4 linked regions of the Homo sapiens genome follow. The gene in region 2 interacts genetically with the main gene of each other region. Each region holds a gene or a part of one and is shown on either strand. Other genes may lie near its edges.

Evidence for each region. Genes that interact genetically often act in the same process or in processes that back each other up.
Region 1: changes in NDUFA9 (region 2) and XPO1 together harm fitness more than expected from each alone (negative genetic interaction), as found in Homo sapiens cells (one large-scale study listed by BioGRID).
Region 3: changes in NDUFA9 (region 2) and MTOR together harm fitness more than expected from each alone (negative genetic interaction), as found in Homo sapiens cells (one large-scale study listed by BioGRID).
Region 4: changes in NDUFA9 (region 2) and MED24 together harm fitness more than expected from each alone (negative genetic interaction), as found in Homo sapiens cells (one large-scale study listed by BioGRID).

The regions. Positions count from the first base shown.
Region 1 is NC_000002.12:61,492,518-61,496,876, forward strand, and holds part of XPO1 (exportin-1), read right to left. Parts: intron 3,097-4,359; coding exon 2,938-3,096; intron 1,575-2,937; coding exon 1,377-1,574; intron 537-1,376; coding exon 398-536; intron 232-397; coding exon 50-231; intron 1-49. UniProt on the Homo sapiens protein: Mediates the nuclear export of cellular proteins (cargos) bearing a leucine-rich nuclear export signal (NES) and of RNAs.
Region 2 is NC_000012.12:4,661,751-4,666,819, forward strand, and holds part of NDUFA9 (NADH dehydrogenase [ubiquinone] 1 alpha subcomplex subunit 9, mitochondrial precursor), read left to right. Parts: intron 1-782; coding exon 783-885; intron 886-5,069. UniProt on the Homo sapiens protein: Accessory subunit of the mitochondrial membrane respiratory chain NADH dehydrogenase (Complex I), that is believed not to be involved in catalysis. Required for proper complex I assembly.
Region 3 is NC_000001.11:11,108,455-11,112,571, forward strand, and holds part of MTOR (serine/threonine-protein kinase mTOR), read right to left. Parts: intron 1,276-4,117; coding exon 1,195-1,275; intron 917-1,194; coding exon 836-916; intron 1-835. UniProt on the Homo sapiens protein: Serine/threonine protein kinase which is a central regulator of cellular metabolism, growth and survival in response to hormones, growth factors, nutrients, energy and stress signals.
Region 4 is NC_000017.11:40,043,570-40,047,928, forward strand, and holds part of MED24 (mediator of RNA polymerase II transcription subunit 24), read right to left. Parts: intron 1-4,359. UniProt on the Homo sapiens protein: Component of the Mediator complex, a coactivator involved in the regulated transcription of nearly all RNA polymerase II-dependent genes.

The sequences.
Region 1 (4,359 bases), on a different chromosome or scaffold from region 2:
AACATAATACTTATTTAGCAATTCTAATTCATACCTATCCCTTGCATACCTTTATAACAGTAACAAGAAATCGTTTTTCGTCCTCTTCATGCATTGCTCCACTAATGGAGCCTATTGCCCAACACAATGTATTCAAATTTTTCCATGACCACTCTGTACCATTCACTTGATTGTGAAGCTTCTCTGTCATTATTCTTTCTGTATCTACATAATCCAGATGAGTAAGATAAACTACAAAGAAAAACATGGTTTCAAATGCAAATAATGAGCAGAATTTTATTGATGAGTAACAATACATTTAGAAAATATTTAGAAACTACAAGTACATTTCCTAAAATGTATTTCCACCCCAGAATAGATTTATAAAGGTAAAGATTAACAGTATTTATTAACTTACCCAATGTTTCCCTCATATTCTTATACAAATTTATGGAATCTGTATCCTTCATGAATTCTCTCACAACTTCTCCTTGATCATTCTCTACAACCAATACTTCCTCTGGTTTAGCCATTCGACTAACCATTAATAAACGGACCTATACTCAACAATATATCAATCAAGAAAAAAATCGTTAGATCACTGAAATCATTAGTGTAGAAGCTTAGTTAAAAACAAACAAAACCAAAAAAACCACAAGCCAGCCATGTGTAGGGATTCATGCCTATAATTCCAACTATTCCGGAGGGCCGAGGCAAAAAGAACTGTTGTGGCCAGGAATTTGAGAGCAGCTTGAGCAACACAAAATGACACCCAATCTCTAAAACAATAAAAATACTGGGGCTTAAAGCACAACAGAAAAAACTATGTAAATATAAATGAAGTAAAACTAAAAAATTTAAAATTTGCTAGGCATGGTGGTGTGTGCCTGCAACCAATTACTTGGGAGGCTGACACAAGAGAATTGCTTTAGTCTAGGAGTTCAAGATTGTAGTGAGCTATGACCACGCCACTGCACTCCAACCTGAGCCACAGAGCAAGACCCTGTCTCCAAAAGAAAAAATTTTTTTTCACTGTAATTCTACAAAAATGGCTTTATAATTATTTAAGTGTGTTTTAATGTGATTTTTTTAACCAACTTCTGTTACAGGAGTTTCCTGTGTCTCATTCCTAGACTCTGGTTTAGTAGATTGGCAGGTGGCCAATGAATTTGCCTAACGAAATCACAACCAATGTTGATACTGAGAGAAGGACCACACTCTTGAGAATCAAGGTTCTAGACTCAACTCCTTTCATGTTCTAGTTTTCCACACTCATGGAGAAGTTGTTGGGTTCTCTTTTTATAGCTAATTTATTTACACAGATTAGAAGTATTTGGATTCAGACCTCAAAACCACAGTATGCAACAGGAAGAACACTCAACCAACCGCTCTGTTACCTTGAATAACATGGGCAAATATAGCTGTCTCCTGGGAGGAACATCAAAATGTTGACTTCCAGAAAGCAACGGAGAGGCAGATGTAGAGAATGGACTCTCTCTATAGAGTTCAGCAGCCAAATGATTCCAGTATTCAAGACAAATTTTAAAGATTTCAGTTTCTTCTACTTCAGATACCAACAACATATAATGAAGGGCCTACACAGAAGACCAAAACTGTTAAAATAATTCTTAAACATTACCAACTTCAAATTGCTTTTCACTTGTTACACCTTAAGGGAAAATAAAAATTCATGTTTTATTCATCACAACTCAGATTTCAATACTTATCAAATAGACAGCAAACTCTGGAGTAACTCTGCTTCTTCTGACATGCCCTAAAGCACTTCAAAAATCTCTCACATAGTAGTTGATCAATATGTATTTTTATCATGTCTCCTAATGGAACGACATTTATTTAAAAGGCCTTGGGTGCCAATAAGTGGTATCACAACCCAAATGTACCATCACAGAGGAGAGAACAAACAAAATACTGAATATTCATACAATGAGAATATTCTTCAGACATGATAAAAAGTGAGGTATTGATACAGGTTACAACATGGAAGAACATTGAAAACACAACACCAAATAAAAGAAACCAGACACAAAAGGTCACATGCATGATTCCCTTTATATGGTATAATCAGAATAGATATATCTACAGAGACAGAAACCAAAATAATGGTTGCCAGAAGTTGGGGAGAGAACAAAGGAGAAAGTGACTGTTTTAGGGGTAAAGGGTCACCTTCGGGTGATGAAAATGTTTTGGATCTAGGTATTAATGGTTGTATAACATTGTATATATACTAATATGCCACTGAATTGTGTGTGTGTGTGTATATATATATATACTTATGTTTATATATATATATACTTAAGTTTATATATATATATAAAGAGAGAGAGAGAGACATTTTCTTCCTTCAGACAGAGTCTTGCTCTGTCACTCAGGCTGGAGTGCAGTACTGTGATCTTGGCTCACTGCAACCTCAGCCTACTGGGCTAAAGCAATTCCTGTGCTTCAGCCTCCTGAGGAGCTGGGATTACAGTCATGTGACACCACGCACAGCTAATTTTTTTGTATTTTTAATAGAGACAGAGATTCACGATGTAGGCCAGGCTGGTCTCGAACTCCTGCCTCAAGTGATCCACCCACCTCCGCCTCCCAAAGTGCTGGGATTACACGATGAATTGTATATCTTTAAATGAACAAATGCATGTTATTTGAATTAAAACTGAAATTTTAAAATAAGGTCTTTGAAATTTTAACCTTAGAAATGATATAATAATTAGTAATTTAATTTTGATTATAAATTTTTAGTCCTAGCTTTATGGAGAACATAAAATCAGAAAACTGGGCTTATAACTGTAATTCAGAATTGAGAATATATATAATGTACTGATCAAATATTAAGTAATAAGAAATCTCAAAAGGTACATACATTTTAGAAAAAGGCACTTTTAAGAGTTATTAGTAGGCAGAGCAGAATTTTAGGAGCAAAAGCTCCACATATCTTACCTCCATAAGAGTTTCCCTGAGATTTAATCTTTTTTCTATAAGTTGATCATGTTCCTTAAGAAAGGTGCAGAGAAACAAACTGAGATTTTGAATGAAGTTCTGTTCATCATCTTTTCCATTTGAGTACGCAAGTCGAATATTGGTATTTAAAGGAAGCATCTGCAAATTTTAAAAGGGACGATCAGTTCGCATTTTATAAAACAACTAAAGACACTTAATATTTTATTATTATTTTTTTGAGACAAGGTATCACTCTGTCCAGGCTGGAGTGCAGTGGTATGACCAAAGCTCACTGCAGCCTCCACCTCCTAGGCCCAATCAGTCCTCCTCAGCCCCTCCCGAGTAGCTGGAACCACAGGTATGTGCCATCGCACTAAGCTTATTTTTAACATTTTTGTAGAGACGGTATCTTGTTATGTTGTCCAGGCTGGTCTCAAACTCCTGGCTCAAGCAATCCTCCCACCTTAGCCTCCCAAAGTGCTGGGATTAAAGGTCTGAGCTATTGCACTCAGCCAACACTATTATTTTTAAGCCCTAATATCCCAACACCCTTTTGCTAATATTAAACCACATACAGAACTCCTAGGTCCAGTATACCTATTCTTATATCTCTAGGACTTAGATTTTGACTCTTCTCAAATAAATTAAAGGCCGCTATCACAGCCTTTAAATTTTTCTAGTATTTCTCACTGACATTGAAAAATGTAAAAATAATCAATTCATTCATTCAGATCACAAACATACATAGTAATCTATCTTTCCTTGTTTTTTAAAAGAGACAGGGATTTACCCTGTCATCCAGGCTGGAGTGCAATAGTGTGACCATAGCTCATTTTAACTTTGTATTAATAGGCTCAAGCGATCCTATTGCCTCAGCCTCCAGAGTAGCTGGAACTACAGGTGTGCAACACCACAGCTAGCTATTTTTTAAATCTTTCGTAGGTATGGTCTGGTTATGTTGTCCTGGCTGGTCTCGAACTCCTGGCATCAACTGGTCCTCCCATTCTGGCCTCCCAAAGTTCTGGGATTACAGTATTAACCACCATGCCTGGCCATGAACACAGTATTATGAATAACCTTCTAGATCATTTAATAGATAACCAATCAAACTAGGGCTGAAAAGAATTCCTTCAGACACAATGTTAGGAACAAGTCCCAGGTTTCCCACTGTCTGGTCAGGTATCTCCCAAAAGACCAAGCTCCTAAAGTGTGCAGAAATAAATTACCACAACACACCCCAAACCTGAATTTTAAGAAATTTTTGGAAACATCATAAAAATTTGTAGCTTACTACAAATTTTATGTAATAAACAAAAGATTATGGCTTATCTTTGATACGTCGTTCTAAAATAACTCATTTGGAATTTGGTATTTTCTAAGGCACTAAAATTATTCAGCCAATTTTCAAGATAGTATTATATT
Region 2 (5,069 bases):
AGATGAACAAAGAACAAGCAGGCTGGAAATTGTAGGAAATGGACATCCAAGAGCAGGATGTCTTCATTTAATACCTCAGAAGAAGAGCAATTCCAGATGTTGATACAGTAGGTGGTGTAACCAAGTTAAGAGTGGTAGAGGTGGAAGGAAGAGGAGGTCGTTGGAGTTGAGCAGCTCAAGAACCTGAGAAGTCCAAGCCCACTTGGACATCATGTCACCTCCAGTGGTGGTGGAAGTAGAAAGGAAGACTGAATTAGGTGCTGATATCTTCATCGAACAAGAAGACTTGCCTAGGAGGCTAGTAGATGATAACAAGTAAGGATGGTACAGCAATTGAGATTAGGAGGATTAGTGACTCTATCCCCAACCTCCTTTGGATATGTAGGTACTGGTGACACTTCCATTATTGCAGCCTGCTGCCACCATACTGTCCTTTTTCTAACAGGCTGCTAGATGGTTGACACAAACCAGAGAATCTGTAAATAGAAGGAAAAATGGAGGCTGAAGAAATTCTACTTTGATTTTTCTCCTTCTTCAATGTAAGCTTCCCTTAAAATAAAAAAATTGGAAGAGACCCAACCCAATCTGTAAGGTGCAGGACATTTTTGTGGATTATATTTTTTAAAAGTTCTGTGTAACTGAGTTTTATGAATTACATGATTACCTTTATCTGGAGGAAAATATCGCCTTTGAAATACAAGTCATGTCTTAATAGTGGAAAGAATGGATGCTTTATTCACTTGTCTCTAAACTCAAAACAGGTTTGTTTGGTTATTGTTTAGGCTGTTGGAGAGAAAGTAGTGAGAGATGCATTTCCGGAAGCCATTATCGTAAAGCCGTCGGACATCTTTGGAAGAGAGGATAGATTCCTTAATTCTTTTGCAAGTACGTATTCTTTCTTAATGGTAGAAGAGAGGGATACTGATTAACCAAGTTGAAGCTGCTCAAGCTAACAGTTTTCTCTGATTGACAGACTAAGGATATATTTTTTCTTTCCCAGTTGCCTTTTCCTCCCCTAAGTTTATATTTTCATAGTCAATGTAGTCTTTGTTATATTCCATATCAAAAGAAGCAACTTAGATTAATGGAAAGAGCATGAACTTGGGAGTCAGAGACTTGAGTTTAAGTCTTGGCCCAGCTAACTCTGTGACCTTGGCAAATATTCGAATATCACATGGAATAGTTTCTCTATCCTAAAATCCCCTGTGTTATATGTATTGATTCTTACCCTCCTACCCACCCCTAACCCCAGACAACCACTGATCTTTTTATTGTCTCTATAGTTTTGCCTTTTCCAGGATATTACATATATGGTTAGAATCATTGCAGTATGTAGCCTTTTTAGGTGGACTTCTTTCACTTAGCAATATGCATTTAAGGTTCTTTCATTTCTTTTCATAGCTTGATAGCTCATTTCTTTATATAGCTAAATAGTATTCCATTGTGTATATTCCATTGTATTGGATATTGGTTTATCCAATTTAGATGTTTCTATCTTGTTTTTCCCCCTGTTGCTTGTGTCCACCTAACATCTGTAATAATTTCTACTTAAAAAAAATTGTGGCAAAATATACATAGTATAAAATTTCCCATCTGCTATGGGCTAAATTGCGCCCCCTCATAATTCGTATGTTGAAGCCTTAACACCATTGTGAATTTATTTGGAGTTAGGACTTTTGGAGGAAATTGAGGTTAAATGAGGCCATAAGGGTGAGGTCGTAATTCAGTAGGATTGGTGACCTTATAAGAAGAGGCAAAAAGAGAGATCTCTCTCTCCCTGTGTGCACATACTGAGGAAAGGCCATATGTGAGGACACAGCAAGAAATCTGCTGTCTACAAGCCAGGAAGAGAGCCCTTATCAGGAACCAAACTGGCTGGCACTTTGATCTTGAATTTGCCAGCCTCCAGAACTGTGAGAAAATACATTTTTATTGTACAAGCCACCCAGTCTATGGTATTTTGTTATGGTAGCCTGAGCAGACCAAAATAGATTTTGGTACCAAGAAGTGGGGTGCTGCTGTAGCAAATACCTAAAAATGTGAACGTGCCTTTGGAACTATGTAAAGGTAGAGGCTAGAAGAGTTTTGAGGTACCTGGTAGAAATATGGACGTTAAGGGTGATTTTTGTAAGGTCTCAGATGGAAATGAGTAAGATGTCATTGGAAACTGGAGGAAAGGTGATCCATATAATAAAATGGCAAAGAAATTGGCTGATCTGTGTGTGTTCTAGTGGAAGGTAGAACTTGTGAGTGATGAAATTGTTTATTCAGCTGAGAAGATTTCTAAGTACAAAGTATTGAAGAAATGCCTTGGTTCCTCCCGACTGCTTACAACAGAATAGAAAAAGAGAGAAAGAGGAAATGAAGAAGGACTTGTTAAGCAAAAAGGAACCGGAACCTGAAGATTTGGAAAATTCTCAGCTTATCCATATTGCAAAAAATGAGAAAGCTTGTTTTGAAGAGAACACTAAGAGTGTGGCTGAACAACCATTTGATGAAGAGATTGTGGATGCGACTCACCAACTAACAAGCTATCTTGGCAGAAGCCAGGAATAGAGATGAGATTACATCAGCAAAGTCACCACCAGTTTGAACTAGAAGGGGCAGAATGAAAGAAGCCTGTCTGACTTCTGATATCCTACAGGACCAGACCACAGAGCTATTTGGCTGTGAATTTGAGCTATTCTTCAAGAAAAGGGAAGAATGACCCCAAAAGGGGTTCAGAGATGTTTAGAACTATCTCTTTGGTTTCAAAGGATGGGGCCATTGCCTCAGTTTAAACACCACATGGCCTTTGTCAGAGGCCTTGGAGGTGGGACCACCCAGAGTCTTGGAGGTACAGCTGCCTGATCCTTGGGGCTACAGCCCCCTGGAACCTTTGAGGTGTTGACCCTCTGCCCAGGAGAGCTATTGGGGTGGGGCTGCTGCCCCAGTAGGTCCTAGAAGTTAGAACTACCGCTTCAGTGGGTCCTGAAGGTGAGACCACCACCTCTGTGAATCTAGAAGGCAATGCATCTAGGCAAAGAAGATTATTGATTTTTAGTAGCCACCCTAATAGGTGGTGTTTCATTGTGTGTGTGTTTTTATTAGATTCTAAAATCTAATAGAATTTACCTTGCTAAGTTTTGGACTTACTTGGGAGTTGTTACCCTTTCTTTCTTACGTCTTCCTTTTAGAATAGGAATGTCTATCTTATGCCTGTCTCACGGCTGTATTTTGGAAGCACATAACTTGTCTGGTTTCACATGTTCATAGTTAGGAATTTTGCCTCAGGATGACCCACACCTTGAGTCTTACCTATATCTGATTTAGATAATATTTGGATGCGACTTTGGAGTTTAGAGTCTTGAGACTAAGACAAGATTAAGACCCTTTTAACTATTTGTAAGAGTACAGTTCAGTAGTATTAAGATATTTACATTGTTGTACAACCAATCCCCAGAACTTTTTCATCTTGTAAAACTGAAATTCTGTACCCCTTAAACAACTCTCTGTTCCCTCCTTCCCCCCAGCCCCTGGCAACTACCATTCTGCTTTTGGTTTCTATGAATTTGACCACCTCATATAAGTGGAATCATACAGTATTTGTCTTTTCGTAGCTGGCTTATTTGACTTAGCATAATATGCTCAAGGTGCATTCCTGTTGTACCACGTGATGTGATTTCCTTCCTACTGAAGGCTGAATAATATTCTGTGATATGTCTATACCACATTTTGTTTAATAAGCCATCCATCAATGGATACTTGGATTTCTTCCCACTTTTGGCTATTGTGAATAATGCTGCAATGACCATGGATGTACGAAATATCCCTGATTTCAGTTATTTGGTGTATGTACTGAGAAGTGGAATTCTGTAGCATATGGTATATCTATTTTTACTTTTTCGACAAGCCACCATAGTGTATTCCACAGTGGCTGCACCATTTTACATTGCCACCAACAGTGCACAAGGTTTCCACTTTCTCCAGATCTTTGTCAATATTTGTTATTTTCTGTTTTTTTTTTTTTTTATAATAGCCATCCTAATAGTTCTAAGGTGGTATTTCATTGTGTGTGGTTTTTTTGTTTTTGTTTTTGAGATTGGGTCTTGCTCTGTCACCTAGGCAGTGATACAATCACAGCTCACTGCAGCCTTGAACTCCTGGGCTCAGGGGATCCTCTTGCCTCAGTTTCCTACATAGGTGGGACTAGAGGTGTGTACCACCACACCTGGCTTAAAAAATATATATATTTTTGTAGAGACAGGTCTTGCTCTCTTGCCCGGGCTGGACTCAAACTCCTGGCCTCAAGCAGTCTTTTTGCCCCAGCCTCCCAAAGTTCTAGGATTATAGGCATGGGCCACCACGCCTGGCAACAATGTGGTTTTGATTTATGTTTTCCTAATGATTAGTGATGTTGAGCATCTTTTCATGTGCTTTTTGGCTACTTTATTATTTGGAGAAATGTCTGTTCATGTCCTTGGCTAATTTTTAAAATTGGGTTGTTTATTTTTTGTTATTGAGTTGTAGGAGTTTTTTTATTTATTCAGAACATTAAATACTTATCAGATATGTGATTTGTAAAATTTTCTCTCATTTTTTAGTTTGTCTCTTCACTCTGTTAATTGTGTTCTTTGATGCACAGAAGTTTTAATTTTGATGTAGTCAGGCTTATCTATTTTTACTTTTGTTGCCTGTGCTTTTAGTATTGTATCTAAGGAGTCGTTGCCAAGTCCAATGCCATGAAGCTTTCTCCTTTTGTTTTTGTCTAAGAGTTTTAGAGTTTTAGCTCTTAGGTTTAGGTCTTTGATCCATTTTGACTTAGTTTTTGTATATGGTATGAGGTAAGGGTCCAATTTTATTCTTTTGCATGTGGTTATCCAGTATGTTGAAAAGATTATCTTTCCCCATTGAATGGTCTTGGTGCTTTTGTCAGAAATCATTTGACCATATATGCAAGAGTTATTTTTCTCTATTCCATTGCTCTGTATGTTTTTCTTTACGCCACTGTTTTGATCACTACACTGTTTTGATTACTGTGCCTTTGTAGTAAGTTTTGAAATCAGAAAGTGTGTGAGACTTCCAAAAAT
Region 3 (4,117 bases), on a different chromosome or scaffold from region 2:
TGTAATCCCAGCACTTTAGGAGGCTGAGGCAGGCAGATCACCTGAGGTCAGGAGTTCAACACCAGCCTGGCCAACATGGTGAAACCCTGTCTTTACTAAAAATACAAAATTAGCCGAGTGTGGTGGCACATGCCTGTAGTCCCAGCTACTTGGGAGCCTGAGGCAGGAGAATCACTTGAACCTGGAAGGTGGAGGTTGCAGTGGGCCAAGATCGCACCACTGCACTCCAGCCTGGGTGACAGAGCAAGACCCTGTCTCAAAAAAAAAAAAAAAAAAGAAAAGAAAAAAAGAAAAATTCGGCCGGGTGCGGTGGGTGAATCACTTGAGGTCAGGAGTTTGAGACCAGCCTGCCCAACATGGTGAAACCCCATCTCTACTAAAAACACAAAAAATTAGCTGGGCGTGCACCTGTAATCCCAGCTACTCGGGAGGCTGAGGCAGGAGAATTGTTTGAACCTGGGAGGCAGAGGTTGCAGTGAGCCAAGATGGAGCCACTGAACTCCAGACTGGGCAATAAGAGCAAAACTGTCTCAAACAAACAAAAAAAAGACATGATTAAAAAACACTTCTCTGAATTTGGCTGATTTTGGACCCAAAAGAAATTTATTCACCTCCTGAGTTAAATGAGATTAAACTAACATTAAGTACTGTTATCAGTCATCAGAAAGAAGAATCAGAGACAATGTTTAACTGATGACCTCAAAGACACTCTTTGTCAGCTGCATGGTGCCAAAGCTCGTCACTAACACCACTGGACATGGGGCTGACCACCACTCAGAGAGGAAAGTGTGCTCAGATTTTATGTCCCTTTTAAGTAAACACATGACACACTCACCAGTGAGCTTATCTCGAACCCTGTTAATAATCTGGATAGCTTTCTTATTTAGGGCCTCTGGTTTCACCAAACCGTCTCCAACTGGAATACACAAAAGTAGAAATAACTGTAAGAATGGGAGCAATACAACAGGTTCAATGGGTGCCCTGTTTTTCTCAAATATTCACTTTTGTAAGTGTTAAGCAATCCTTCCTCTATGTCCGTCTTTGTCCTCAGAATATAATGAGAAATTCATGGAACCTTTTCTGCTCAAAGGCAGTTTTGTTGCTTCATCTTGTTGACCCCTCTCAGGGTATAACACAGCTGCTATTTTCTTAATGAGCTAGTCACTGGTGCGGTTCCTCAGAGGCTGAACTTACTGAAAGAATGAATAGATTCTGGCACTGTGGTCCCCGTTTTCTTATGGGCTGGCTCTCCAAGTTCCACACCGTCCAAAATTTCTATGGGAAAAGAAATCAATTAACAGAAAATTCAAACACCAAAAAGCCACTGTTGGTGTTAGCATCTAATTCTCTACGCACTCTATTCCTTTAACGCCTGCCCTACCTACCCTAAAGGGGAAAAGAGAAGGAAAGTTTTATGTTACTCTTTATGTATTTCAAAGTTTTAAGCTGGACATAGCTGTAATCTCAGCTACTCAAGAGGCTGAGGTGGAAGGATCACTTGAGTAGCTGAGTTCAAGACCAGCCTGAGACTCCATTTGCAAAAAAAAAAAAAAAAATTTTTAAATCTGTAAAGCCATTTTCAAATGTGAGTTAATAATTATTGAAAAAATTTGGTGCTTATCAGAATTGAAACATGGATTTTCAGGCAAATTGCATTAACAAAATAAACTCATAGGAATAAGAACAGGTCAAAAGCCTCGTGACAAAATGTGTTTGGACAAAAACTGATAAAGAAAATTAACTTCGGAATGTGTCACACACAAGGTTGAAATGTTATTCCTTGGAGGAATTTTCATATCAGCTCTGGGTAGAAAAAGTCCTCAGGTGTTAGGTTCACCCTCCACTGATTATGGCTTTTAGCAGAGAAGAGTCTGAAATCAGAATTATGAAGTTTTTTGAATGCTGTCCTTGTACATCACAGACCTTCTGAATGAAGGTAGTGATAATTATACTTCTTTTTTTTTTGAGACGGAGTTTCGCTCTTGTTGCCCAGGCTGGAGTGCAGTGGCATGATATCGGCTCACTGCAACCTCTGCCTCTCAGGTTCAAGAGATTCTCCTGCCTCCCGAGTAGCTGGGATTACAGGCATGCGCTACCATGCCTGGCTTATTTTGTATTTTTAGTACAGATGGGGTTTCTCCATGTCGGTCAAGCTGGTCTCAAACTCTTGACCTCAGGTGATCCGCCTGCCTGGGCCTCCCAAAGTACTGGGATTATAGGCATGAACCACCGCACCCGGGTGATAGTTATACTTCTATTAATGATCCATTGGAAGTTCTTTTTTTTGAGACAGGGTCTTGCTGTGTTGCCCAGGCTAGTCTCAAACTCCTGGGCTCAAGTGCTCCTCCTGGGCTTACAGGTGTGCACCACAACACCCAGCTGGAATTTAACTTTTAAGCTAAACAACCAAATCCACCACCATCTGGTGCCAGCAGAACTGGCTGTCCTAGTTCCCTTCTGTATGCTACAGACAGCATATAGTAGCCACTTGAGAATTGTTAGGGAGGTGGGCCCTGAGAATGAAGCCAGTAAGTCTCAGCACACTTCGTTTGAGACCAGCCACCAGTATAAGCTCCCCCAGAGACTGTGTGTCCTATGAGCCTGGTGATTCAGGCATTCACAAATCCTGTCACAGTGTCCATGTATGACATTATAAGCCAGTATCCCAATTTCTTGCCTGAAACACCCTTTTCCTTTCTACCCATCAGATTCCACCCATCCAATAAGGATAAATTACCCTTTGGCAAGGTGGGGTGGCTCATGCCTGTAATCCCAGCACTTTGGGAGGCCGAGGCGGGCAGATCACTTGAGGTCAGGAGTTCGAAACCAGCCTGGCCAACGTGGTGAAACCCTATCTCTACTAAAAATTCAAAAAAATTAGCTGAGCATGGTGGCATGCGTCTGTAATCCCAGCTACTTGGGAGACTGAGGCAGGAGAATTGCTTGAACTCGGGAGGCAGAGGTTGCAGCGAGCCGAGACTGCGCCACCATACTCCAGCCTGGGTGACAAAGCGAGACTCTGTCTCAAGAAAAAAAAAAAAAAAAGAAAGAAAAATTACCCTTTGTCAGGTGAAGTGATGGTTAGATGCCACCAACCCAAGTGCTCTCTTCGCAGCTACGGTTCACAGTGAAGTCCCCTTTTCTGAATCTCCACAGCCCTACTCCACACGAAAGCACCCGCAGGCTCCACGGCAGAGTCTCCTGCTCTCTGACTATTTCACGCAGGTTATGGTCAATTCTGTAATGCTTTCTGTGCTTCTTCAGGCGACCACTGTACCTCACATTTTCTTTTTGCACCCCTAGACATTATTTGGCTTAGTTTATTAACTAGTTGTAAGTGCTCTGTAAACATTTGTAGAAAAGATATACTTTTTTACACCCTAACAGTAATTCCCAAAGTATGAACTATGTAGGGTGTTGCTAAATGTCACGAAGGAAAAAAGGGGTGGGATGGGGAGTGCGGGGAAGAGGGGAGGGCTAAACAAAGTTAAACAATTTTACTCAAAAACAAACAAACAAACAAACAAAAAAACCCCCCAAAACCAGTAACTTCAATGCTGTGTGTGCTGGAAACTAATACAAATAAAATAAAAGTTAAACAGCTTGACTCAAACACTCCTGAGAGGTTTCCACACACAAAAAGGACTCTGGCTCTCAGAGGGACACAAGTCTTCTAGACCCCTGCTCTGTGAGTCGCGCTCCTAGAAACACTGTTCCATGTGGTTCCAGGGTTCCTCCCAGCAACGCAAATAAATTTCTGCTGCTTCCATCTTCCCATTTCTGAGCTATTATCAATGCTTGAGGACCAAGGTAATACTGTTAATAATTATTCCAACCCAGACACCATTAGTGAGCTGATATTCAGACATACTTTAAACTGTGTTTTTACAGATAGATTAAAATCAGATAGTTTGATAAAAATCTCAGAGCTTCAGGTACCCACTCCATGTGTGAAACAGTAAATAAAAAACATATTAGCTGCTTGGTGCTCAGTAAATATTTCTAGACCAAGTATTTGAAGTTCAATTAAATGCTTATCAGGTGATAAGCTAGCAGTAATAGCACCTTTGCAAAACTATCACTGTCAAGAACCACGAGAAAACTAGATTTACTTCCT
Region 4 (4,359 bases), on a different chromosome or scaffold from region 2:
CTTCCTTAAGGATTTTTCTGCTTCAAAGATTTAAATAAGCCAGGCGCGGTGGCTCACGTCTGTAATCCCAGCACTTTGGGAGGCCGAGGCGGGCGGATCACGAGGTCAGGAGATCGAGACCATCCTGGCTAACACTTTCGTGAAACCCCATCTCTACTAAAAATACAAAAAATTAGCCAGGCGCAGTGGCGGGCGCCTGTAATCCCAGCTACTCAGGAGGCTGAGGCAGGAGAATGGCATGAACCCGGGAGGTGGAGCTTGCAGTGAACCGAGATACTGCCACTGCAGTCCGGCCTGGGCAGAAGAGCGAGACTCCATCTCAAAAAAAAAAAAAACAAAGATTTAAATATTAGGTTCGAGACCCGCCTGGCCAACATGGAGAAACCCTGTCTCTACTAAAAATACAAAGATTAGCCGGGCGTGGTGGCACCCGCCCATAGTCCCAGCTACTTGGAGGCTGAGGCAGGAGAATGGCTGGAACCGGGGAAGCTAAGGTTGCAATAAGCCGAGATCACACAGCTGCACTCCAGTCTGGATGAAGGAGTGAGACTCTGTCTCACAAAAAAAAAAAAAAAAGCCGTAACAAAAAAAAAAAATAGAAAAATAGGCAAATTATATATTTATTTGTGTATTTATGAATACATAAATTATGTATTCATAAATACATAGGCCGGGCGCAGTGGCTTACGCCTGTAATCCCAGCACTTTGGGAGTCCAAGGCGGGTGGACCACATGAGGTCAGGAGCTTGAGAACAGCCTCGCTAACATGGAGAATCCCCGTATCTACTAAAAATACAAAAATTAGCTGGGCATGGTGGCGCATGCCTGTAATCCCAGCTACTCGGGAGGCTGAGGCAGGAGAATTGCTTGAACCCGGGAGGCAGAGGTTGCAGTGAGCCAAGATTATGCCACTACACTCCAGCCTGGGCGACAGAGGGAGACTCCATCTCAAAAAAAAAAGAAAGAAAAGAAAATGCACATTATAATATGATATAATTATTTGCCTCTGGAAAAAGTTTTAAAAGATTCTGGCCAGGCGCGGTGGCTCACGCCTATAATCTCAGCACTTTGGGAGGCCGAGGTGGGCGGATCACGAGGTCAGGAGATCGAGACCATCCTGGCTAACAAGATGAAACGCATCTCTACTAAAAATACAAAAATTAGCCAGGCGTGGTCGTGGGCACCTGTAGTCCCAGCTACTTGGGAGGCTGAGGCAGGAGAATGGCGTGAATCCAGGAGGTGCAGCTTGCAGTGAGCCAAGATTGCACCACTGCACTCCAGCCTGGGCGACACAGCGAGACTCCATCTCAAAAAAAAAAAAAAAAATTATATCCAGCGTTGGCAAAGGTATGGGGAAATACTGTCAGACATTACGGATGGGGTATAACCTAATCCAATCATTTTCAGGGGGAAATTTGCAGGATCTACTATAATTTAGTATGTGTATATTCTTCAAATCAGATATTCCATTGTGAGGTATCCACCCTAGAGAAATACTTCCAGATATGCAGACAGGTAGGTATAAGGATATTCAGTGAAACATTGATTATAACAGTAAAAAATTACAAACAACCTAAATTAAAGTACATATGGGCTGGGCCAGGCACAGTGGCTCACGCCTGTGATCCCAGCACTTTGGGAGGCCGAGGCGGGCAGATCACTTGAGGTCAGGAGTTTGAGACCAGCCTGGCCAACATGATGAAACCCTGTCTCTACTAAAAATAAAAAAATGGGCCAGGTGTGGTGGTACATGCCTGTAATCCCAGCTACTTGGGAGGCTGAGGCAGGAGAATCACTTGAACCCAGCGGCGGGGACAGGAGGAGGTTGCAGTGAGCCAAGATCGTGCCACTGCTCTCCAGCCTGGGCGACAGAGCAAGACTTCATCTCAAAAAAAAAAAAAAAAGTACATATGGAATATTATGTAGCAGTGGTTTAGGGGTGAGCTCCATGGCTCACGCCTATAATCCCAACACTCTGGGAGGCCAAGGTGGGTAGATTGAGCTCAAGAGTTCAAGATGAGCCTGAGCAACATGGCGAAACCGTGTCTCTACACAAAATGCAAAAATTGGCCGGGTGTTTTGGTGCGCACCTGTAGTCCAAGCTACAGGTGCAGGAGGATGGCTTGAGCCAAGGAGGTCAAAGCTGCAGTGAGCCACTATTGTGCCACTGCACTCCAGCCTGGGCAACAAAGCAAGGATCCTGACTCTACACATTTTGTTTTTTTTGAGACAGAGTCTCGCTCTGTCAACCAGGCTGGAGTACAGTGGTTCGATCTTGGCTCACTCCAACCTCCGCCTCCTGGGTTCAAGTGATTCTCCTGCCTCAGCCTCCCGAGTAGCTGGGACTACACGTGCATGCCACCACACCCAGGTAATTTTTTGTATTTTTAGTAGAGATGGGGTTTCACCATGTTGGCCAGGATGGTCTCGGTCTCCTGACCTCATGATCCACCCGCCTCGGCCTCCCAAAGTGCTGGGATTACAGGCGTGAGCCATCACGCCCAGCCTCTAAAAAAAATTTTTTTTTTTTTTTTTGAGACGGAGTCTCACTGTTGCCCAGGCTGGAGCGCAGTGGCGCGATCTCTGCTCACTGCAAGCTCCGCCTCCCGGGTTCACGCCATTCTCCTGCCTCAGCCTCCCGAGTAGCTGGGACTATAGGCACCCGCCACCACGCCCGGCTAATTTTTTGTATTTTCAGTAGAGACGGGGTTTCACCATGTTAGCCAGGATGGTCTCGATCTCCTGACCTCGTGATCCGCCCGCCTCGGCCTCCCAAAGTTCCTGGGATTACAGGCATGATCCACTGCGCCCAGCCTAAAAAAATTTTTAATAAAAAAAAATATATATGTGTCAACTGAGAAATACTATTCAGCAGTTAAAAAATAAGAAGAAAAGGCCGGGCGCGGTGGCTCACGCCTGTAATCCCAGCACTTTGGGAGGCCGAGGCGGGCGGATCATGAGGTCAGGAGATCGAGACCATCCCGGCTAAAACGGTGAAACCCCGTCTCTACTAAAAAATACAAAAAATTAGCCGGGCGTAGTGGCGGGCGCCTGTAGTCCCAGCTACTTGGGAGGCTGAGGCAGGAGAATGGCGTGAACCCGGGAGGCGGAGCTTGCAGTGAGCCGAGATCCCGCCACTGCACTCCAGCCTGGGCGACAGAGCGAGACTCCGTCTCAAAAAAAAACAAGAAGAAGAAGAATGAGGCCAGGCATGGGTGGATCACACCTGTAATCACAGCACTTTGGGAGGCCAAGGCAGGAGGATCGCTTGAGCCCAGGAGTTTGATACCAGCCTGGGCAACAAAGGGAGACCCCGTCCCTACAAAAATGTAAAAATTATCAGCCTGGGCAACATAGGAAGATCCCATCTTTACAAAAAAATTTAAAAATTAGCCAGGCATGGTGGTGCATGACTGTAGTCCCAACTCCTTGGGAACCTGAGGTAGGAGGATTACTTGAGCCCAGAAGGATGAGGCTACAGGAAGCTGTGATCCTGCCATTGCACACTCCAGCCTGGGTAACAGAGCAAGACCCTGTTTCAAATTTAAAAAAATAAATAAAAAGAATGTACTATTAACATATACAACATAAATAATAAATCTCAAAAACATTTATGTTAAACAAAAGACAGTATACGAACTATATCCCATCTGACTACATTACTAAGAAATCCAAATAAAGGCAATTGTGGGAGAGGGGAGTGGACTAGAAAGCGGTAAAAGGGAACTTTCTGAGAGAACAGAAATGCTCTGTATCTTATTTTGGATGCTGGTGACATGGGTACATACAATTGCTAAAACTCACTAAATAGGCCAGGCGTGGTGGCTCATGCCTGTAATCCCAGCACTTTGGGAGGCTAAGGCAGGTGGATCACGAGGTCAGGAGTTCGAGACCAGCCTGACCAACATGGTGAAACCCCGTCTCTACTAAAAATACAAAAAAACTGGCCAGGCGTGGTGGAGGACACCTGTAATCCCAGCTACTCCGGAGGCTGAGGCAGGAGAATAGCTTGGACCTGGGAGGCGGAGGTTGCAGTGAGCTGAGATTGCCCTACTGCACTCCAGCCCAGGCAACAGAGCGAGACTCCATCTCATAAAAAAAAACAAAAAAACAAAAAACAAAAAACAACAACAAAAAAAAAACCCTGACTGAATTGATCTTAAGATGTTTGTATGTTCTGAGACGAAGTTTTGCTCGTTGCCCAGGCTGGAGCACAATGGCGCAATCTCGGTTCACTGCAACCTCCGCCTCCCAGGTTCAAGCAATTCTCCTGCTTCAGCCTCCTGAGTAGCTGGGATTACAGACGCCCACCACCATGCCCGGCTAATTTTTGTATATTTAGTAGAGACGGGGTTTCAC